4 separate regions of the Homo sapiens genome follow, and all the other regions are linked to region 4. The links come from fine-mapping of genetic effects on gene expression. A gene starts in region 4. Each other region holds a variant in brackets. All regions are shown on one strand. Distances are between the middles of the regions. Region 1 has its middle 47 kb from the start of PPM1K. Region 2 has its middle 22 kb from the start of MEPE. Region 3 overlaps LOC124900730 (a long non-coding RNA gene). Region 4 holds the start of PKD2 (polycystin 2, transient receptor potential cation channel).

Region 1 (5,152 bases), 230 kb after region 4:
TTCTAACAGGTTTTTGCTGGAGTTTTTAGTTTTTCCAAATGTAAGATCATATCATCTGCAAACAAGGATAATTTAACTCCTTCCTTTCCAATATGGATGCCCTTTCTTTCTTTCTCTCATCTGATTGTTCCAGCTAGGACTTCCAGTACTTCATTGAATAACAGTGGTGAAATTGGACATTCTTGTCATGTTTCAGATCTTAGAGGAAAAGCTTTCAGTATTTTTCCCATTCAGTGCGATGCTAGCTCTGGGTCTGTCATATATGGCTTATATTATGTTGAGATATGTTTCTTCTATACCCATTTTTTTGGGGGAGTTTATCATGAAGGAATGTTAAATTTTATCAAATGCTCTTTCAGCATCAATTGAAATGATCTTATGTTTTTTGCCCTTCATTCTGTTGATATGACTTATCACATTAATTGATTTGCATATGTTGAACCATTCTTGCATCCTTGGGATAAATCTCAATTGGTCATGATGAATGATATTTTAATTTGTTTTTGTATTCAATTTGTTAGTATTTTGATGAGGATTTTTGCATCAATATTCATCACTGATAATAGCCTGTCCCTTTTTTAAAAAATATGTCCTTGTCTTTGTGGGGTTTTTTGGTTTTTGGTGTTGTTTTGTTTTGTTTTGAAACGGGGTCTGACTCTGATGCCCAGGCTGGAGTGTGGTTGCATGATCACAGCTCCTTGCAGCCTTGACTTCCCAGGCTCAAGTGATACTCCCACCTCAGCCTCCTGAGTAGCTGGGACTATAGGCATGAACCATCATGCTTGGCTTATTTTTGTATTTTTTGTAAAGTTGGGGTTTCACCATGTTTCCCAGGCTGGTATCATTGTGTTTTTGATATGTTTTGACATGTTTTGGTATCAAGGTAATGCTGGCCTTGTAGAATGAGTTTGGAAATGTTCCCTTTTCCTTTCCTTTTTGGAATAGTTTGAATAGGATAGTATTTGTTTTTCTAGCAAGTATTTGGTAGAATTTAGCAATATAGCCATTGAATCCCAGGGTTTTTCTTGCTGGGAGATTTTTCATTACAGCTTTAATCTCATTACTTGCTATTGGTCTGTTCAGGTTTTAGATTTCTTCATGGTTCATTCTTGGTAGGTTATATGTGTCTAGGAATTTTTTCATTTCTTCTAGCTTTTCCAATTTATTGGCATATAGCTGTTCATAGTAACCATTAATGATCCTTTGAATTTCTGCAGGATTGGCTGAAATGTCTCCTTTTTCATCTCTGATTTTATTTATTTGGGTCTTCTCTCCTATTTTTTTTTCATTTGTGTGGCTAAAGGTTTGTCAATTTTGTTTATATTTTCAAAAAATCGGCATTTTATTTTGATCTTTTGTATTGTTTTCTTCATTTCATTTATTTCTGCTCTGATCTTTATTATTTCTTTTCTTCTACTACTTTTGGGTTTGGTTTGTTCTTGCTTTTCTAGTTCTTTAAGATGAATCCTTAGGTTGTTTATTTGAAGTTTTTCTTCTTTTTTGATGTAGGCACTTACAGCTGTAAACCTTCCTTTTAGTACTGCTTTAGCTGTATCCCATAGGTTTTGGTATGTTGTGTTTCCATTATCATTTGTTTCAAGGAAGTTTTAAATTTTCTTTTAATTTCTTCATTGACTCAGGAGCATATTTTTAAATTTTCTTGTGTTTTGTGTAGTTTCTAAACATTCCTCTTGTTATTGATTTCTAGTTTTATTGCATTGTGGTCAGAGAAGATGGTCCATATTATTTCATTTTTTTGAATGTTTTAAGACTTGTTTTGAGGCCTAACATAATCTATCCTTGAGAAAGATCCATGTGGTGAGGAGAAGAATATGTATTCTGCAGCCACTGGATGAAATGTTATGTAAATATCTATTAGGTTCATTTGGTCTATAGTGGAGATTAAGTCTGATCTTTCTTTGTTGATTTTCTGTCTGGAAGATCTGTTCAATGATGAAAGTGGGGGGTTGAAGTCTCCAGCTCTTATTGTATTGGATTCTATCTCTTTAGTTCTAATATTTGCTTTATATATCTGGGTGCTCTAATGTTGGTGCAGATATATTTCAATTGTTATATACTCTTGCTGAATTGACCCCTATATCATTATATAATGACTTCTTTGTCTCTTCTTAGAGTTTTTGTCTTGAAATCTATTTTGTCTACTCTTTTTTGGTTTCCATTGGCATGGAATATCTTTTTCCATCCCTTTCTTTTCATTCTATGTGTGTCTTTTTAAGTGAAGTGTGTTTCTTGTAAAGCAACAGATCATGAGATCTTGTGTTTTCATCCATTCTGCCACTCCATGTGTTTTTATTAGAGGGTTTAGTTCATTTATATTCAGTGTTATTATTGATGAGTAAGGACTAACTCCCACCATTTTGTCATTTGTTTTCTGGTTGCTTTTTCCTCCTTTCATTCCTGCCTGTCTTCCTTTCAACCAAGATAATTTTCTCTGGTGGTATGATTTAATTTGTTGCTTTTTATTTTTTATGTATCTGTTGTATGTTTTTTGATTTGAAGTTACTGTGCAGCTTGCAAATACTATCTTATAACCCACGATTTTAAGCGGATAACAACACTGCTTGTTTAAACAAACAAGCAAAGAGAATAATAAAGACCAATAGTCTACTCCTTAATTTCATCTGCCAACTTTTAAACTTTTTGTTGTTTCTGTTTATATCTCATTTTACCGTCTATGTCTTGAAAGCTTGTTGTAGTTATTTTTTTATTGGTTCATCTTTTTAGTATTTCTACTTAAGATTGGAGTAGTTAAGTCTACACTTACAGTGTTATAATATTCTGTGTTTTTCTGTGGCGTTACTATAATATTACCAGTAAGTTTTGTACCTTCAGATGATTTCTTCTTGCTCATTACTGTTCTTTTCTTTCTGATTGAAGTACTGTCTTTAGCATTT[C/T]TTGTAGTACAGGTCTAATGTTAATGAAATCCCTCAGCTTTTGTTTGTCTGGAAAAGTATTTCTTTTTCATACTTGAAGGACATTTTTGCCAGATATACTATTCTAGTGTAAGAGTTTTTTTACATAAGCACTTCAAATATGTTATGCCACTCTCTCCTGGCCTGTACAGTTTCCACTGAAAAGTCTGCTGCCAGACTTATTGGCACTTCATTGTATGTTACTTGTTTCTTTTCTCTTGCTGCTTTTTGAATCTTTCCTTTATTTTTGATCTTTGGGAGTTTGATTATTAAATGCCTTGAGATGTTCTTCTTTGGGTTAAATCTGATTGGTGTTATATAATCTTATATTTGGTTATCAATAACTTTCTGTGGGTTTTGGAAGTTCTGTGTTATTCCTTTGGATAAACTTTCTATCCCTATCTCTTTCTCTAGCTCCTTTTTAAGGCCAATAACTCTTAGGTTTGCCCCTTTAAGGCTAATTTCTAGATCTTCTAGGCATACTTTATATTTTTTTATTCTTTTGTTTCCTCTGACTGTATATTTTCAAGTAGCCTGTCTTCAAGCTCACTGATGCTTTCTTCTGTTTTGATTTATTCTGCTGGTGAAAGACTGATGCATTCTTCACCATGTCAATTCCATTTTTCAACTCCAAAATTTCTGCTAGATTCTTTCTAATTATTTCAATTTCTTTGTTAAACTTATCTGACAGAATTCTAAATTCCTTTTCTGTGTTATCTTGAATTTCTTTGCATTCCCCCAAACAGCTATTTTGAATTATCTGTCTGAAAGGTCATATATCTCTGCTTCTCCAGGATTGTTCCCTGTTCCCTTATTTAGTTCATTTGGTGAGGTCATGTTTTCCTGGAAGGTCTTGATGCTTGTGGATGTTCATTGGCGTTTGGGCATTGAAGAGTCAGATATCTATGGTAGTCTCTGCACTCTTTCCAGGCATTTAAAAAGACTTGGGTGTTGAGATCTAAGACATATCTACATTAGGGGGCATCTCAAGCCCAGTAACACTATGGTTCTTCCAGACTCATAGAGGTACTGCCTTGATAATCTTGAATAATATTTGGAATAATTCTCTGGATTACCAGGCAGATTCTTGTTTCTTTCCTTACTTTCTTCCAAGCAAATGGAGTCTGTCTTTCTGTGATGAGCTGTCTGGAGCTGGGGGTGGGGTGACACAAGCACCCCTGTGGCCACCACCACTGGGACTGAGTTGGGACAGACCTGAAGCTGGCACAGCACTGAGTCTCACCCAAGGCCTGTTGTAACCAGTACCTGGCTACTGCCTATGTTCACTCGAGGCCCTAGGGCTCTGCAATCAGCAGGTGGTAAAGCCAGCGAGATTTGTGTCCTTCTCTTCAGGGCAGCAAGTTCCCCTAGACCCTATTCTTTTCCAGAGATGCCATCCATGAACTAGGGACTAGAGTCAAAAATCTTAGTAATCTACCTGGTGCTCTATTCTACCACAGCTGAGCTAGCACACAAGTTATGTGACACAGTTATTTCTACGCTTTCCTCACCTTTCTACAGGCAGAGGAAACTCACCCATGGCCATCACCTCCACAGGCCCAAGGGGAGTGCTGCCGGGCTACCACCGAGGTTCACTAAGGCCCAAGGGCTCTTCAGTCAGCTTATGCTGAAGGCTGCCAGGTCTGGGACTCACTCTTCAGGGAAATGGTCCACCTTCTGGCCCAGGGAAGGCTTAGAAATTCCATCTAAGAGCCAAGGCCTCTAATTAGGGGCCCCAAGAGCCCACTTGTTACTCTACCCCACTGTTGCTGAGCTGGTACCTAAGGTGCAAGATCAAGTCCTCTTTACTTTTCCCTCAGCTTTTTTCAAGCAAAAGGAGTCTCTCACCATAGCCACCATAGCTGGGACTGTGCTGGTTCACATCTAAAGCCAGCATATCTCTGAGTCTTACCCAAGGCCCATGGCAAGTACTGCCTGGGTGCTGCTGCTGATTATTCAGGGCCCAAGGTCTCTTTAATCAGCAGGTGATGATTCCTCCCAGGATAGGTCCTTCCTTTCAAGGCAGTGGATTCCCTTCTGGCCTAAGGTATGTCTAGAAATACTGTCTGGGAACTAGGGCCTGGAATGGGGGCCTAATGACCCTGACTAGTGCCCTATCCTACTGCGGCTGAGTTGGTATCCAAGTTGCAAGACAAATTCCTCTTTACTCTTTCCTCTCCTCTCCTCAAGCAGAAGTAAGGCTTCTCCTTTGCAGCTGA
Region 2 (5,152 bases), 150 kb before region 4:
CATTTCAGCTTACTCTGGCCTGTTCATCTAACACTTACTAAAAGCATGTGACAGTAAGCTTTGAATCAATTCACATATCTTTCTCTCTCAAAATAATGTTTTTAGTTTTCTGATTATGAGAGAAATGAAAAACCCATTATATAAAATTACAAAAAAAGAAAATATAAAAAAAAATTACACTTTCATCACATTTTTCCTCCCAGTTCTTTTTCTAACTATATACTGACATATATTCTAAGAAAACATTATATTCTTTTAGTGTTCTTTTCTGCTATCTTAATTTGCTCTTTTATCACATTACCAAATATTTTTAAATCATTTTTAAATTTTATTATATACATTTACCACAGTTTGTTCAGTCTACTATTGAAGAATATTTAGCATTTTCCCAGTTTGTCTCTATTATAAACTCTTGTGTTTTTTCAGCTTTACTGAGGTATGATTGACAAATAAAAATTGTATATGATGCTTAACCATTCTTTTTAAATGGCTGCATAAAATTTGCTGCTTTGATTTACTGTCATTTTTTTAGCCACATCCCTATTGATAGGCATTTAAATGATTTTTAGCTAATCACTATTCAAACAGTGTTACAATAAACATCACTGGTCATGTATCTTTGTGTACAACAGTAGGGTAAATTTTTAGCATTACCAAGTCTATTTTAAATATGAGATACAAAGATGCAACATCAAGTTTCATATACCTGAGCAAGTAGGTTCTTAGAGCAAGTAAGTGAATATTGCACTTTACATAAATTTGCCTCTGTGACACTTCCACCTGCACACAATATGCCCCAGGGCAGTTAATTCCAAACACTGGTGACAGGCTAGGTCCAGTGGAGTCATCTGAAGATCTTTATCAGAAAGCACAACCCTGGAGCTCATTCTCAAAGATTCCGATTCTTTGGTGGGTCCTAGTATTCTGCATTTTAGGAAACTTCCAGGTGACACTAATACACAGCCAGGTTTCAGCAACACTGCCATAAGAACCCGTATTAAAGAGCTTTTAAAATGGAAAACCAGAAAATAGTCACTAGATGGCAACCTCGCTCACTTTTTGAAAAGCATTTTGAAACAAAGCAAAGAGAGTTTTTAACTTTCATTCACAATTAAATTTGGAAATGTCTCCCTAAAGGAAGTTTAAAAAAAAAAAAAAAAAAACATACAATCAGGTGCCTCTCTTTCATAATGCCCGTATCCTATTACTTTTAAACTCCATAAATAAAAACAAGGGCTCTTTTGTTTGAATAATAACAGCCCCCTCTGGAAACTTAATCTAGTTTTTGTTTGCATACATCTCTCCTATAAAACTCTGAATTTCCTGTTTCCTTAGATAATAAAGTGGAATTTGTCTTAAAAAGTCTCTTTTCTTTCTTACTAATGTCTGAATCTCCTTAAAGCCAAGATCAGCTGTGCTTAGTTTTGTGAGGCTAAACCCCCTGACATTAACACGTTGCCATTCTTTTTCTAACTGGCTCTATACAGGTGCAGAGATTCTTGGAAGAAACCTTAGAGATCATCTGGTCCAGTGCTCACCTAAGGCAGGTTCACTGTGTTTCACCCCTAATAGCTGGTCATTTTGCCACTGTTTACATACTTACACTAACAGGGAGTTCATTACCTTACCTTACACTTTTGGTGCTAGGCAGAAAGATGCATTCATTTTCCACATTACATGTTTCCTGTTTTCTACACTTCTCCTCATCAAACTAAACATTTTTCAATGACCTTTCATGTGCTCTTTCACCACACTTACCTCCAGTTGGTTGGGCACAATATTCCACATATTGTTTGAACATCTCAGCAGACCATGTAATAGTCTACCCTTTATTCTGGCCACTCAATCCTGTTAATATAGTCTAGGATTGTGTTAGACTCCTTAACATCTACAAAATGCCTATGTCAGCACTTGGTCCAAAATACAGGCTAAATTCATATTAGTTTCCCTTTCTCCTTATTTAATTTCTAATTATATAAGTACTAACTTCCTTCTGGTTTTTGTTT[G/A]CTCATGTGCTTACTCCATAAAAAACAATATTAGACCAGCTCTGCTCTTTGTACAGTATTATATCATTTATTTTCTGATCCAGGATGCATAATGCTCTATTTCACAATGCTATTTTATTGAAGTTTCTTCAATCTCGATTTTGTGATCCTAAATATTAACTATCACTCCCAGTTCTTAAGATGCAAATACTTCCTGGGTGTTCATTCACCAGTTTGAAGAAATTTTGAACAGGGCAGAGGGCAGGCTAGGACAGTGCCTGCAGCATATTGAAGTTGGCCCCCTTGTAGCCTGATGCTGATCTATTTTTTTTTTTTTTTTTGAGACGGAGTCTCGCTCTGTCGCCCAGGCCGGACTGCGGACTGCAGTGGCGCAATCTCGGCTCACTGCAAGCTCCGCTTCCCGGGTTCACGCCATTCTCCTGCCTCAGCCTCCCGAGTAGCTGGGACTACAGGCGCCCGCCACCGCGCCCGGCTAATTTTTTGTATTTTTAGTAGAGACGGGGTTTCACCTTGTTAGCCAGGATGGTCTCGATCTCCTGACCTCATGATCCACCCGCCTCGGCCTCCCAAAGTGCTGGGATTACAGGCGTGAGCCACCGCGCCCGGCCGATGCTGATCTATTAATCAATACTTTTTGGGTGCAGCTGTTTGGTTAATAATGACTATGGCTCTATTATTAACTGGCCTAGATATGCTCACAAAAGAATTTTGTCAAATGCTTTGCTAATATCAATATGCTGAGCTCTACAGCATTTCCTAAACCTACAAGACCAGCAATAAGATCAAAAATGCAATCAGGCTGGGCACGGTGACTCACACTGTAATCCCAGCACTTTGGGAGGCCAAGATGGGCAGATCATTTGAGTCCAGAAGTTTGAGACCATCCTGAGCAACATGGTGAAACCCATTGTCTACAAAAAATACAAAAATTAGCCGGGCGTGGTGGCATGCTCCTGCGGTCCCAGCTACTTAGGAGGCTGAGGCAGGAGAATCGCTTGAAACTAGGAGGCAGAAGTTGCAGTGAGCCGAGATCGCGCCACTGTACTCCAGCCTGGATGACAGAGCAAGGCTCTGTTTCAAAAAACAAAAGAAAAAGAAAAAAATGAAATCAGAATAGTGACAGTACAGAAAACTGTGATAATGTAGACTTAAAAAAAAACTAAAGGTTTTTTTTTCACCTTGGAAAGGTGAAATAGATTACAACCAAATTACAACTGTAATCCCTGGACACATGTAGAACAGACCCAAGAAAACTCTGAAAGGTGGAGAGAATTAAAAAGATGGGCCAGGGACCTTAAGACTCAAGGAATGACAAGGCATTAAGCTTCCTGGGCTTTTTTTGGTCTCATATATCCCAGACTTGGAGCTCCAGATGCTGGCAGCCCAGAAACACCAAATACAGACAAAAAAAGCCTGCACACTCTAGCCAAAGGAACAGGAAAGGGGCAGTCCAGCAACGCTGAACACTTTTAGACAATAACCACTCTACGCCAGCCAAACACCGCAGAGAAAACTGTGGCCCCAACCCCACCCACACAAGCCAAGGCTGAGTGGGGGAGCCCAGACTTCCAACCTGGAGACGCCACCACGAGGTGCCTCAGCCCCGTCACCACCACCACCACCACCTCCGGGGTGGTATCACAGAAGGCTGAGAAGAGAGCTGGTACTCTCATTCCAGCCAGCCTGTAACAAGCAGTTCCTGTGGTATCAGTGGAGACCATGAGGACAGCCTGGACTCCACTCCCACTCGGCAACTTCCTGCTGAGGGGGGGGCACAGGAGGTCTAGTGGAGAGTCAAGATTTTTACCACTGCTTAGCAGTAACAATGCCACCTACCTATGGTGCCACCAGAGACCATGTGGGGAGCCAGAACTTCCACCCTTTCCTGTAGTAATGAGGAGCCCCCAACACACATGCACACACACACACAGGGATGTCAAGGGAGGCCAAGTGGGAAACCTGGGCGTCTATCTCTACCCTTCTAAAGTGGTGTCATAGGAAGCAAAAATAGAAGTTAAATAATACCCAGAGTCTTATAATATGAAAGTACCCAGGATTCAATTGAAAATCACTCATCATTCAAAGAAACAGGAAGATCTCAAACTGAATGAACAAAGGCAATCAATAGATGCCAACACTGAGTCAGCAGAGATGTTAGAATTTCCTAACAAATTATTGTAAAGCAGTCATCATAGAAATGCTTCAATGAGAAATTTATAAATGCACTTCAAACAAATGAAAAAGTAGAAAGTTTCAGCAAAGAAAGAGAGGATCTAAAGAAGAACCAGATGGAAATGTTAGACATGAAAAAGACAATAATGGAAATTTTGAAAAACTCAGTGGATGGGCTCATTAAAAGGATGGAGGGAACAGAGGAAAAAATCAGTCCACTAGAAGACAGAACAATTTTTCAACCTGAACACAGAAAAAATAGCCTGTAAAAACAAACAAACAAACAAAAACACAAGAGCAGAGCTTCAGGGACCTATGGATCTAACACTTACGTCATTGGAGTTCTAGAAGGAGAGGAAAAAAAGGGCAGGGCTGAAAAAGCACTTGAAGAAATAATGGCTGAAAGCTTTCCAAATTGGCAAAAGACAAAAACCTACAGATTTAAATAGGTGGGTGAACTGCAGACAGGATAAACCAATAAACCTACAGAAACCTACAGCAAGCTAGAAAGATCATGCAGGTTTCTCCTTTCTGAATGAACAGAGTGAGAGAATCTGATGCATCCATTAGCTGAATTCCTCTAGAGTAAGGTCATCTGATCTCTCAAATAATGAAGGATTCTATTTCCTGACCCAATCAGAAGGTTAGCTGAACCTGTCATCAGAATGTTATTACATTTGCCTAAGAGTGAACCTTTCATGCAGGGTGCTTGTTGGAGAGCCTAAGAGGTCACAGTGGAGACTTTGTTGTCCCTGAAGGAACAGGCTCTTGGCTGTTTTTGTCTGTTTGCTAATAAATGCTTGAACATGTGGTAGCATTCGGTCTGAGACTTGTTTTCACTGTTGGATACCACCATGGGAGCAAAGCCATGGGAAAAGAATCCCATAGTTCCCGGCCACTCCTCACTACTGGATGTGCCAATGCTTATCCGAACAACCTGATAATTGTGAATAGCTTAATTGACTTAGGTCATT
Region 3 (5,152 bases), 42 kb before region 4:
GTGATTTTCTGCACTTTTAGAATTTAAGTTGTCTTAGAGCTGAAATGAAGCCACAAGTCAAGAACCATCCCCTTTTTTCTCAATGCCCTGCCTTCCTACCATCTCTCTTCCAGCTGGGAGAGTCTAGGACTGGAATCATAGTGCTAGATAGGAAATACTATTTTTAATAGAGGTCTCATTTTTATCTTTTAGGATTCTTATCACCCTTTTTTTTCAAAAATGCATTTTGGTTAACTGCATGGATACATACAATGTGTATTTTTAAACCATAACTGAAATTGATATTTTTATTTTGTTGTTTCAAAGCAACTAAAATTAACATTTACATGCCAATGTATAGAACTAAATGTTTTATATTTTGTGCAATATTTACTCCAACACTTAGCTTTCTTTTAGAATTCTTTCTGAATTCTTAGCTTTCTTTTAGTAAATTCCTCAACTGTTTACTCTATACTTTTATGTTTCATAAATTTTTGTTAAAAAAAAAAAACACTCAAATCCTGTGTGTGAAAGAAAGATCTACACACAACCATGTACCCGCTCAAACCTGGTACTATAGGATAAAAGTTTAATTGATCTTATTTCCTAATCCTAATCTGCCTGTCCACCTGGTTAACACTCAGGCTAGAAGATAGGACCACAAAAAATAAGTCAGCTGCCAATTTTATAAAACTGCTGTGGAAGTAAAACATGTTTTAGAAAAATAGATTTACTGTATGTAGGATTTCTATCCTTCTTAAAAAGTAAAATTTTTATACTCATTTATATTCTAGTCAGCGATTACAAAATGTTTGTAATCTTTGTAATCATCATCTTTATAATCTTTGTAATGAAACTCTGTCACCCTTTTCCTTCTAAATTCAGAATAACATCATCTCTACGATAAACCGGGTTCCTAAGAGACCAAGCTTGATGAAACAACATGTATGTTTTCAATCTTACTAGAGGTTAAGACACCACAATTTCACTTGTGTCTGAACCAACTCCTCGTAAACAAAAATAAAGCTGAAACCCCAGTCTGAGATGCTTTGGCACTGTCTAAAAACAGAAAAAGGCCACTTTACTGATCCCAGCCTCCACTTCCTCCCCAACCCAGACAAATGGGTGTACCCACTCTGCTGATATGTCACACATAACCTCTTTTGCTACTTCACTAAGAACTCTGGCTAACCCCTTAGCCCAGCTATGACCCACAGACCAAAAGACCACCAAAGGTTTAGGAATATCAGTGAAATAAATATACAGGAAAGGGTCAAAGCTTCAGCTCCCAACAATAAACAGTTTCTGACATAAGCTACTGTTTCCTTTAATTATGGTCATCTCCATATGAGGATGGTAGAGTGCTTTAAAATTCTTCAGGTTTCCTAGAATTTACCTCCCACACAATATTTGATCTGGTGAGAGGCAACTAAGACTAAAATTAATCTGTGAACACATCCTTACTAGTAAACGGAAGTCATTCAAAACCTTCAGAGAACATGACTTTAAGTTCTCAAATATAACTAGATGGGTTGATTTTAACTTGATCTCTTATTTATTTATTTATTTATTTATTTTCATAGAGACAGGGTTTTTGCCATGTTGACCAGGCTGGTCTTGAACTCCTAAGCACAAGCAATCAAAGTGCTGGGATTACAGACTTGAGGACCAAGCCTGGACAATTTAACTTGATCTCTAACTGCCACTGGCTACTTGTTAGAAGGTCAAAAAGCAAAAGGTATCCAAAAAACAGGTGGCCTAACTAAGAAGTAAAAGCAAATGATGCTGTGTGAACGATTCAGAAGTTGCGAGATGAATTTATCATTTAGTGGAAGGCAGCTGTAGCCTCTTTCTTCTCAGAAATAAGCCAACTTAACAATATTTAATTATGTGGTATAGGCAAGATAAAATTCAGGTTCCCAGATTCCCAACATGGGACACTATCCACTAAAACCTATACCACAGCTGATTCTCTTCTTGCAAAAGTGGGAAAAACAAAAACAGAGGATCAAGAGAAGCCCGCTATCCTAATCACTTATCTACTGATATTGCATACCATCTCCTTGTGGAAAAAATTAGTCACATACTTATTGTATAAAATAATCAACTTCAATTTTAACATATTAGTAACCTCGCATGAACTTATTCTGGCTTTTAGAAATGGGGGAGCAAAAATTAATAGAAAATAGATACATATAAAGTTATAGCACCATAACTTAAATTCCGTTTCATGAGTCTAGTGACCTGGAACACAGACGATAAAATCCAAAAGCTATGAACTGAGCAATATTATGCATATGGCATTGTGTTAATTAAGGTAACATCTGCTATCGTAACAGATGTCAGGCACTAAAGGCAATAGAAACTTATTTCTCATTCATACTGATGGCAACGGTGGGCCATCCGGAGCGGTTGCTGTCATCTTGCCAGCTGCAGCTGGGAGGCGCCAGCGGTGGTGGCAGGAGCGGCTGTGGGAGCAGTAGTGGCGGGTTGCGGGGGAGGGGGTACCCCTGTGCCCTATGTCCAATGTCTGGGAGGCAGCCGACTACGCCACC[G/C]GGACCCTAGCACTGCAGGGCAGGACCTATCCCCAGGCCCAGAGCCTCCGTAGCTCAGCCCCTGGCCCCGCGTTGCTGCTGTCACCCTCTGCTGCTGCAGGGAGGATGTGTGGAAGAGGCAGACAGTCCCCGAAGCCCACAGCCCTGGGGGCCACCACGATGGGGCCAGGCCAAGTCGCCCATGGGCAGGGGAGCAGCTGTCAGGCAGAGAGGGTCCCCAAGGCAGAACTGGGTCCAGGGCAGTGTGACGCTTGCACACAGAGCGTGGTGGCCGAGCCAAGGCGCTGACCTGGGGTGTGCTTCAGGGCCCCATGGCTGGAAGTGGGAGCAGTGCCCGCTTCAGGACCCAGCCAATTTTTGCAGTGACAGCACCCACCCCACCAAGCCAAGTTCCTGCACGTCAGGAGAAGGCTCTGCACAGGGCTGACTGGGGCTGTGTCCAGGGGTTCCGTCCCGCATTGAGGTGATCACCGGGCCTGACACTCTCAACTGCCAGGCCAGGCCCTGATCCACTCCCAAAGGGTCCCCCTCAGACAAGGCTGTGAGCTGGGTGGGCAAAAGCCCCGCCCTCCCAGGAGCAGGACCTGGGAGTCTGTGCAGTCTGCACCCTAGGGGGCCTGTCTGCTCCTGCTGCCTGGTCTCTCCCCACTCCTGGCACCCACTCCAATCTTGGAGTGGGGTTGGGGCCAAGCCGGAGAGCTGTCACAGCCCAGCTGGCTGTGCGCATGCTCCGGACAGCACTGACACACCAGCCCCCTGCCACCTCGGCCTCCTCCAGACTTTGGGCACTGATGAGTGTTGCGGGGAGGGAAGTGGAGGTGAGGATGAGGGCAGCTCAGTGCTGGCTTGCAAGTGCCCCTTTGTGCAAGCAGCCTGGGTGCCATGGACAGCCACAGGAGGCAGACCGGCTCCTGGGCAGAAGGGGGCAGGTCCAGGTGAGGCCCCATTTTCAGGCCAGGGAGAGCCTGAAGGCTGGGGGCCAGGCTGCCAGTCCCACAGACTGGAGCGGAGACTCGTGGTGTCTTTTCCAGGCCTGCCCATGGTTGCCCATGGACCAATTGGTGTGCACTTCTTCACCTCTGAGGTCCATAAATGCCCTGGGCTCAGCAACACCAGGGCAGAGGATGGAGAGATGAAGGGACAGCCAGCAGCAGAGAGGAGATACCCACTCTGCTGAGAACTGAACACTTTTCGGGATGACCTGCCTATATCTCTGATAGGAGCTGAACACTCGTCAGGACACCCTAGCTATGGAGAGGAGCTGCCCACTGTGAGTCTTCCCTGAGGTGTTCTGTTGCTCAATAAAACTCCTCTTCGTCTTCCTCACCCTCCACTTGTCTATGTACCTCATTCTTCCTGGTCACAGGACAAGAACTCAGGACTTGTGGAATGGTGATGCTAAAAGAGCTGTAACACAAACAGAGCTGAAATATGCCCCTTGCTCGTTTTGTTGGTGGGCAAAGAGGAGAGAAGAGCTGCAGCCCTTCAGGGAGCCTAGACCTGGGATCTCCCTGAGCTAGGGCTGTGACTCCCTTTTTGAGACCCTGTGGTCCCTGGTGTCTCTGAGCCTCTGGGCACCACCACATTCCCTAGTATGAGCCAGGACAGCTGCCTGTGGGGCGCTGGTCCAGCCACAGCCTTGAAGAGAGCTGGCGCCCATGTCGGCACCTGGAGCTTCCTGCCCCGCAGCAGCAGCTGGCGTGTCTGACTGCACAGTGGCCAGACTCTATGCTCATTCACACCCCATTGCCACTCCATGCCTGACTCGCGGCATCCCTTGGAGGCATGGGATCCAGGCCAGTAGCATGAGCTGAACACAGCCTGCCAGGCTGAGTGGGCAGAATGAGTCCAGTGGGCCAGAGGCAAAGGCACCACCGGCTGTATGTTTCTGGCCAAAAAAGCAACACTCCAAAGATCCTGTAACAATACGATATCTAATGCTAGGGTTCCAGATCAGCAGACAGCTCAAGTCATGTTCTCCCTGGGCTCTGCTATCCAAAATGCTTCAGTCCTCTTCATCTGGTGAAAGGGTAAGGAAGAAGACTATGGGGGAGGCACGCTTTTTGAAGTTTTTAGGCACTTCCGCCTGGAAGGGAAACACATCACTTTGTTTTACATTCCCTTAGCAAGAACTAGACATATGGCCACATCTAAATGCAAGGGAGGCTGAGAAATGTAGTTTCAGCTGGGCAGCTGCTTCCCAGCAACTACTCTGAAGACAACACATCTTTGGTGTACAGCCAACAGTACCTGCACAATTATTATGGTAGGTGCTACATAGAATTCAAATGTGGTAAGGCATAAGACCAACTATGAAACATGTCTTTCTGTAGAAATATGATACTTGTTAAAATACAATAAGCAATTTGTTCAAAGTTTAGAGAGTCAAGAAAACTAATATTTAAGATCATTGTATCTATTAAGAATGAAGCTAATGATATTAACCCATAATCAGTAGGTGTGTGTTTTGAACTGGTGATTCACAGCTGTTTGAGATTAGCAGAGACATACTGACACTCTCCCACACTGTATGGCTCATGACCATAGCATGGCGTTAGCTGGGTGGCATATGTGAAAAAATTAAGCTTTTGTTCTTCTTAGATTTGAACTTGTTAGAG
Region 4 (5,125 bases):
GAAGTATAGAAATGTGGGGGAAATATTTATGAAACCTCTTCCATTTGGAACACATTGGTGCTTCTCAAACTTTGGATGCCTGAGAATCCCCTGTGAAGATTCAGAATTTCAGGACTGGAATCCGGAAGATTTTGAGTCAATAAGGTTGGAATGTGGACCCAGTATCTATATTTTTAGCAAGAGCTGCAAGTGATGCTGGAGATCTTCTGATCACAATTTGAAAACATTGTACTAGGCCTATTCTCCAGAGGACCCTTTGGCTCAGATTCTGCATTCTCTTTCCAGGCCTGGCTCTCCTCTGTTGGAATGTGTCTGTAAGAATCCTTCGACTCTGCAGTGCTGCTGGTGCTATTCAGGACATCTTCAGCTTCAGAAGTTCCTTGGATGACAGGCACCATAACCCTTAACCCACTTGGTAATCTCTCATTTTTGGTCTGTCTCCTCTTGAGGGCCAAGGCTGTATCATACTCCTCTCTACATGCCCAGACCTTAATTCAGGGCACAGGAAATGTCTTCAGAATGAACTGATGAATAGCATGAGCTAGGGCTGTGCTCCAGACCCACCAGTCTTGCCTTTGAGAAGCTCACAGTTAAGAGAAGAACATGAATATCTAAATTAATAAACTGCAGGATCAGGTAATAGGTAGCCATAATTACCTAAATATTAGCAGCATGTTATATGTGCCTAGAGAACAAATGAATAATTCATTAAGGTGGATGGATGGCATGGGATGCCATGCTAGAGGAGTACATTAAGAGCTGTTAAAGCTAAATTGTGTCCCCCCAAAAATTTCTGTGTTGAAGTCCTAACCCCCATTACCTCAGAACATGACCATACTTGGAGACAGGGTCTTTACAGAAGTAATGAAGTGAAAACAAGGTCATGAGGGTAGGCCCTAATCCAATATGATGTATAAGAATAGACAATTAGGACACAGACGCATACAGAGGGAAGAGGGAAGACGGCGTGAGGACACAAAAGCGGGGCCATCTGCAAGCCAAGGAGAGAGGCCTCAGAAGAAACCAACTCTGCCAACACCTCGTGAGAAAATACAATTTTTCTTTTCTTTTTCCTTCCTTCCTTCTTTTTTTCTTTCTTCTCTCTCTCTCTTTCTTTCTTTATGAGACAGAGTCTCACTCTGTCACTTGGAGTGCAGTGGCCCGATCTTGGCTCACTACATCCTCTGCCTCCCGGGCTCAAGCGATCCTCCCACCTCAGCGTCCCTAATAGCTGGGACCAAAGGCACACACCGCAAAGCCTGGCTAATTTTTGTATTTTTTGTAGAGACAAGGTGAGCAAATAAATTTCTGTTAAGCCACCCAGTCTCTGGTACTTTGTTATGGCAGCCCTAACAAACAAATACAGGAGCAGATTATGAGAATTTACTAAACCAAACCACAGAAATTAAATTTTATCCTTTCAGCTGCCAGAAGCCCACAGAGGTGTCTAAGCATCAACGTGACAAATAAGCAGCTTTGGTTCTGCAATATAACCTGGAAATAGTGAGGACACCGACGTGGAGAATAGAGATGGGAGTTGACAGGGATCAATTGTTCTAATGCGGAATAATGCAAGACATAAGATCAAGCCAGCAGGAGTGAGAAACAGAGATCATATCAGGGTGATATCTGTGGGGCAAAAGTAACAAGAAGATAAGGTGTAGGCGGTGGAGGGTAAACCGCGAGGCTTCCATGAAGAAGAGTGGCCTGGGAAGTGAGGAGGACAGCGAAGCCCCAAACCTCACCTTGGGATACGGGAAGTGAAGCAGGTTCCAGAGAAGGGGACAAGATAATGACTTAGGGTAGGATAAATTTCAGACAATTGCAGAGCATCACATTAGATGTGTTCAGAAGAGTGGAAATAAAGTTCTGTGCCTAGGCCCTCATGCAGGATTCTGTTGCTAGAAGTCAGTGCTGGCCGCAGGGAGACCGGAGATCACAGTGGAGGCACCAGCGATCCGAGAGTCCTATGACGAATCCCTGGGATCCCCACAATGTGTGGAGACAGAAGCCAACCAAAGAGCGAGAAAGCATCTCCAAACCAGCAGAATCAGGGGCAGGAGGCCCGCCAAATGCACAGCAAGTCAGCCTTGGTAGTTTGCAAATGGAAAGATTTCTTTGACCCGCTGGAGACTTCAGCTCAGGCTGGATGTCGCTAATTCACACCATCTCACCAAAAGGTTCTTTCCCTGCCCTTTGGTGAATCGAGGCAGAAGTGGCTGGTGGATAACTGGGACCCAAGAGTTATCTCAGCGTCGGGCAGGCATCGACAGCTCCAGGAGCCCTTTCCCTGCAGGCGGGCTGGCGGGTGAGCGATTCCCTCCCTTCCCAGGCCTTCCCGGGAATGGAACGTGGGCGCCCGCGCCCGGGCTCCGGTTCCACTTGGAACGCGGACTCGGGAGCCGCCGGGCGAGCGCGCAGACCGCGGGGGCGGCTCCCTCGCACCTCCCCGCTCAGCGCGCCGCGGCGGATGGGCGAGGCGGGGCGAGGCCAGAGGGAGGCGGGCCAAAGGGGCGGGCGAGAGGACGCGGGACCGCGGGGAGGTCGGGGGCGGGGAGCAGGCGGCGGCGGGCGCCGGGAAGAAAGGAACATGGCTCCTGAGGCGCACAGCGCCGAGCGCGGCGCCGCGCACCCGCGCGCCGGACGCCAGTGACCGCGATGGTGAACTCCAGTCGCGTGCAGCCTCAGCAGCCCGGGGACGCCAAGCGGCCGCCCGCGCCCCGCGCGCCGGACCCGGGCCGGCTGATGGCTGGCTGCGCGGCCGTGGGCGCCAGCCTCGCCGCCCCGGGCGGCCTCTGCGAGCAGCGGGGCCTGGAGATCGAGATGCAGCGCATCCGGCAGGCGGCCGCGCGGGACCCCCCGGCCGGAGCCGCGGCCTCCCCTTCTCCTCCGCTCTCGTCGTGCTCCCGGCAGGCGTGGAGCCGCGATAACCCCGGCTTCGAGGCCGAGGAGGAGGAGGAGGAGGTGGAAGGGGAAGAAGGCGGAATGGTGGTGGAGATGGACGTAGAGTGGCGCCCGGGCAGCCGGAGGTCGGCCGCCTCCTCGGCCGTGAGCTCCGTGGGCGCGCGGAGCCGGGGGCTTGGGGGCTACCACGGCGCGGGCCACCCGAGCGGGAGGCGGCGCCGGCGAGAGGACCAGGGCCCGCCGTGCCCCAGCCCAGTCGGCGGCGGGGACCCGCTGCATCGCCACCTCCCCCTGGAAGGGCAGCCGCCCCGAGTGGCCTGGGCGGAGAGGCTGGTTCGCGGGCTGCGAGGTAAGAGCGCGCGACCCGCAGCGGCAGATGCACGAACCAGAACGGCCGGCGCCGGCCGGGGCCATCGCCCGCTGCGGCAGCTCCCCGGGCTCCATCTCGCATCCCCTCTGCGTTCCGCCTCCCTTGGAAGCGCATTCCCCACCTCCGCTAGTGCTGCCCTATTTCCGGTACCCAGCGCGGAATTCCACTGCTCTTTTGTTGGTGCATATTTATTGGATACCTCCTTCTTCAGGATATGTCACCATAGTCTTTTTTACTGAAAATTAGTGAAAGCCTAATTAGAGTGAAAGAGTACATCTGGGTTTTGTTTTTTTTTTTCTTGTAGAGGAAAAAATGAACATTACTTGTGTAACTGATGGTAGTTGCAACTGCATATTTGCCAATGTCACAAAATCTAAAGGAAAATGTTATAGTCACCCGTGGTTTCCTTCTTGCCTGGACACTCCATTGTCCCGGGCTGAAAAGGGTAGCAGTACAGTGCATATAATGTCAAGTTGTGGGAGGAGTGTGGCAGATTGTCATTGGTGCATTTTTTTGGTGATGTGTGTGGTTGTTTTGAGGAGTGGGAGCTGTTAAGAACACCACAAATAGAATAAAATAATATCGTGAAGTTATTTGGCCGTTTCTAATTCTAGACATTTTTCTAAAAACAGTTGCAAAGGAAAGATTACATTGTTTTAAAAAAATTTGAAGTATGTTTTTAAATAACTAAATTAATGTTCTTTGAAATTCCACCAAAATGATGAAGTCACCAGATAGCAGCTGATAAATGTGTCTGAGCCCAGTGCGCCCAGCTCTACAAAAGGCAGAAGAGGAATTTTCAAATTTGCCAGTGCCCAGTAAGAGGACATGAATTTTCTAGTACCAGAGGAAATTCTCTTTTTACAAATTTTGTCAGAGGTATCCTTGGGAAAGTATTTCATTTGCTTTTACCCTCCAAATTATTTTAATCTATATTTTTAAGAGTTTCCATTCTCAGTTGAGTTTTTCTTGTTCTTCTCCTTCTGTCAGTTTTGAAAGTCTTGCACAAAAACAATCCAGGTGTTGTTACAGCAGTGTGATTAAAACCAGGTCAGGCCTACACTGAAATCCCAGTTCCACCACTCATTAGCTGTACGACCTTGAGCAAGTTACTTATCCTCTCTGATACCCAATTTTTGGATTTTTTTTTTTTTTAAAGAGATGATCATAACGCTTAGGACTTGACTCTTTGGGAGAATTAAGTGAGTTAAGACATAAAATGTGCAGCATGTATTTGTCATGTTATTAGCGCTTCAGAAATATAAATGTAAACATTTTGGTACTTCGTTTATGGAGATTCTTATACTAGTTAATTTTATTAAAAGCATGATGGGGAACAGAAGATCCTTTTCGGATAACCTGTGTGAGTAAATTAATAAAACACTAACACTTTTTAAGATTCAAAACTGGATTAATTATGTTATTTTACACCATTTAAAATGTGCATTTAAAAAATATTCACTGAAGTGAGAGAGAAGTTCCTTTTAAGTTAATAAATAATGGTAAGTTGCATGATCCTTTTAACTCAGTTTAAGCATTTGATAACACCCCTAACCTTGTTTGAATAAACTCAATAACAGAATATAGAGAAATAAAATATATATTTCATATGAGTATGTATGTAAATTTATTTCTTTTAAAGGAAAATTTCAGGAAACAAAATGAATAAGCTCATAGTCATAAAACCTCTAGCCAAAGTGTGTCAATGGTCTGATTTGTAGGAGAGCAGACTCAGGAATCGGGAATTTTTTTTTTTTTTTTAAGAGTCGGGGTTTCACTCTGTCACTGAGGCTGGAGTGCGGGGAAGCAAACGTAGCTCACTGCGGCCTCAAACTCCTGGGCTCAAGCTGC

What was found. PIP is the estimated chance that this variant, and not a neighbour inherited with it, causes the effect. A credible set is the group of variants that fine-mapping cannot tell apart.
Region 1: its variant is the best candidate, but not a certain one, in a credible set for the expression of PKD2 in whole blood (TOPMed, PIP 0.67).
Region 2: its variant is the best candidate, but not a certain one, in a credible set for the expression of PKD2 in whole blood (INTERVAL, PIP 0.66).
Region 3: its variant is the best candidate, but not a certain one, in a credible set for the expression of PKD2 in amygdala (GTEx, PIP 0.79).

The regions. Positions count from the first base shown.
Region 1 is chr4:88,235,183-88,240,334 of GRCh38, forward strand. No RefSeq gene overlaps it. Among named protein-coding and RNA genes, the nearest start is that of PPM1K, 47 kb to the right of the region's middle. The variant C/T (reference allele first, on the strand shown) is at 2,916.
Region 2 is chr4:87,852,187-87,857,338 of GRCh38, forward strand. No RefSeq gene overlaps it. Among named protein-coding and RNA genes, the nearest start is that of MEPE, 22 kb to the left of the region's middle. The variant G/A (reference allele first, on the strand shown) is at 2,007.
Region 3 is chr4:87,963,154-87,968,305 of GRCh38, forward strand. All of the region lies in intron 1 of LOC124900730 (a long non-coding RNA gene), which reads right to left. Among named protein-coding and RNA genes, the nearest start is that of SPP1, 10 kb to the right of the region's middle. The variant G/C (reference allele first, on the strand shown) is at 2,535.
Region 4 is chr4:88,005,076-88,010,200 of GRCh38, forward strand. PKD2 (polycystin 2, transient receptor potential cation channel) reads left to right here and starts at 2,560. Exons shown (of 15, transcript NM_000297.4): 1 at 2,560-3,253. The coding sequence starts at 2,659. RefSeq lists silencers at 2,323-3,252, 3,303-3,442.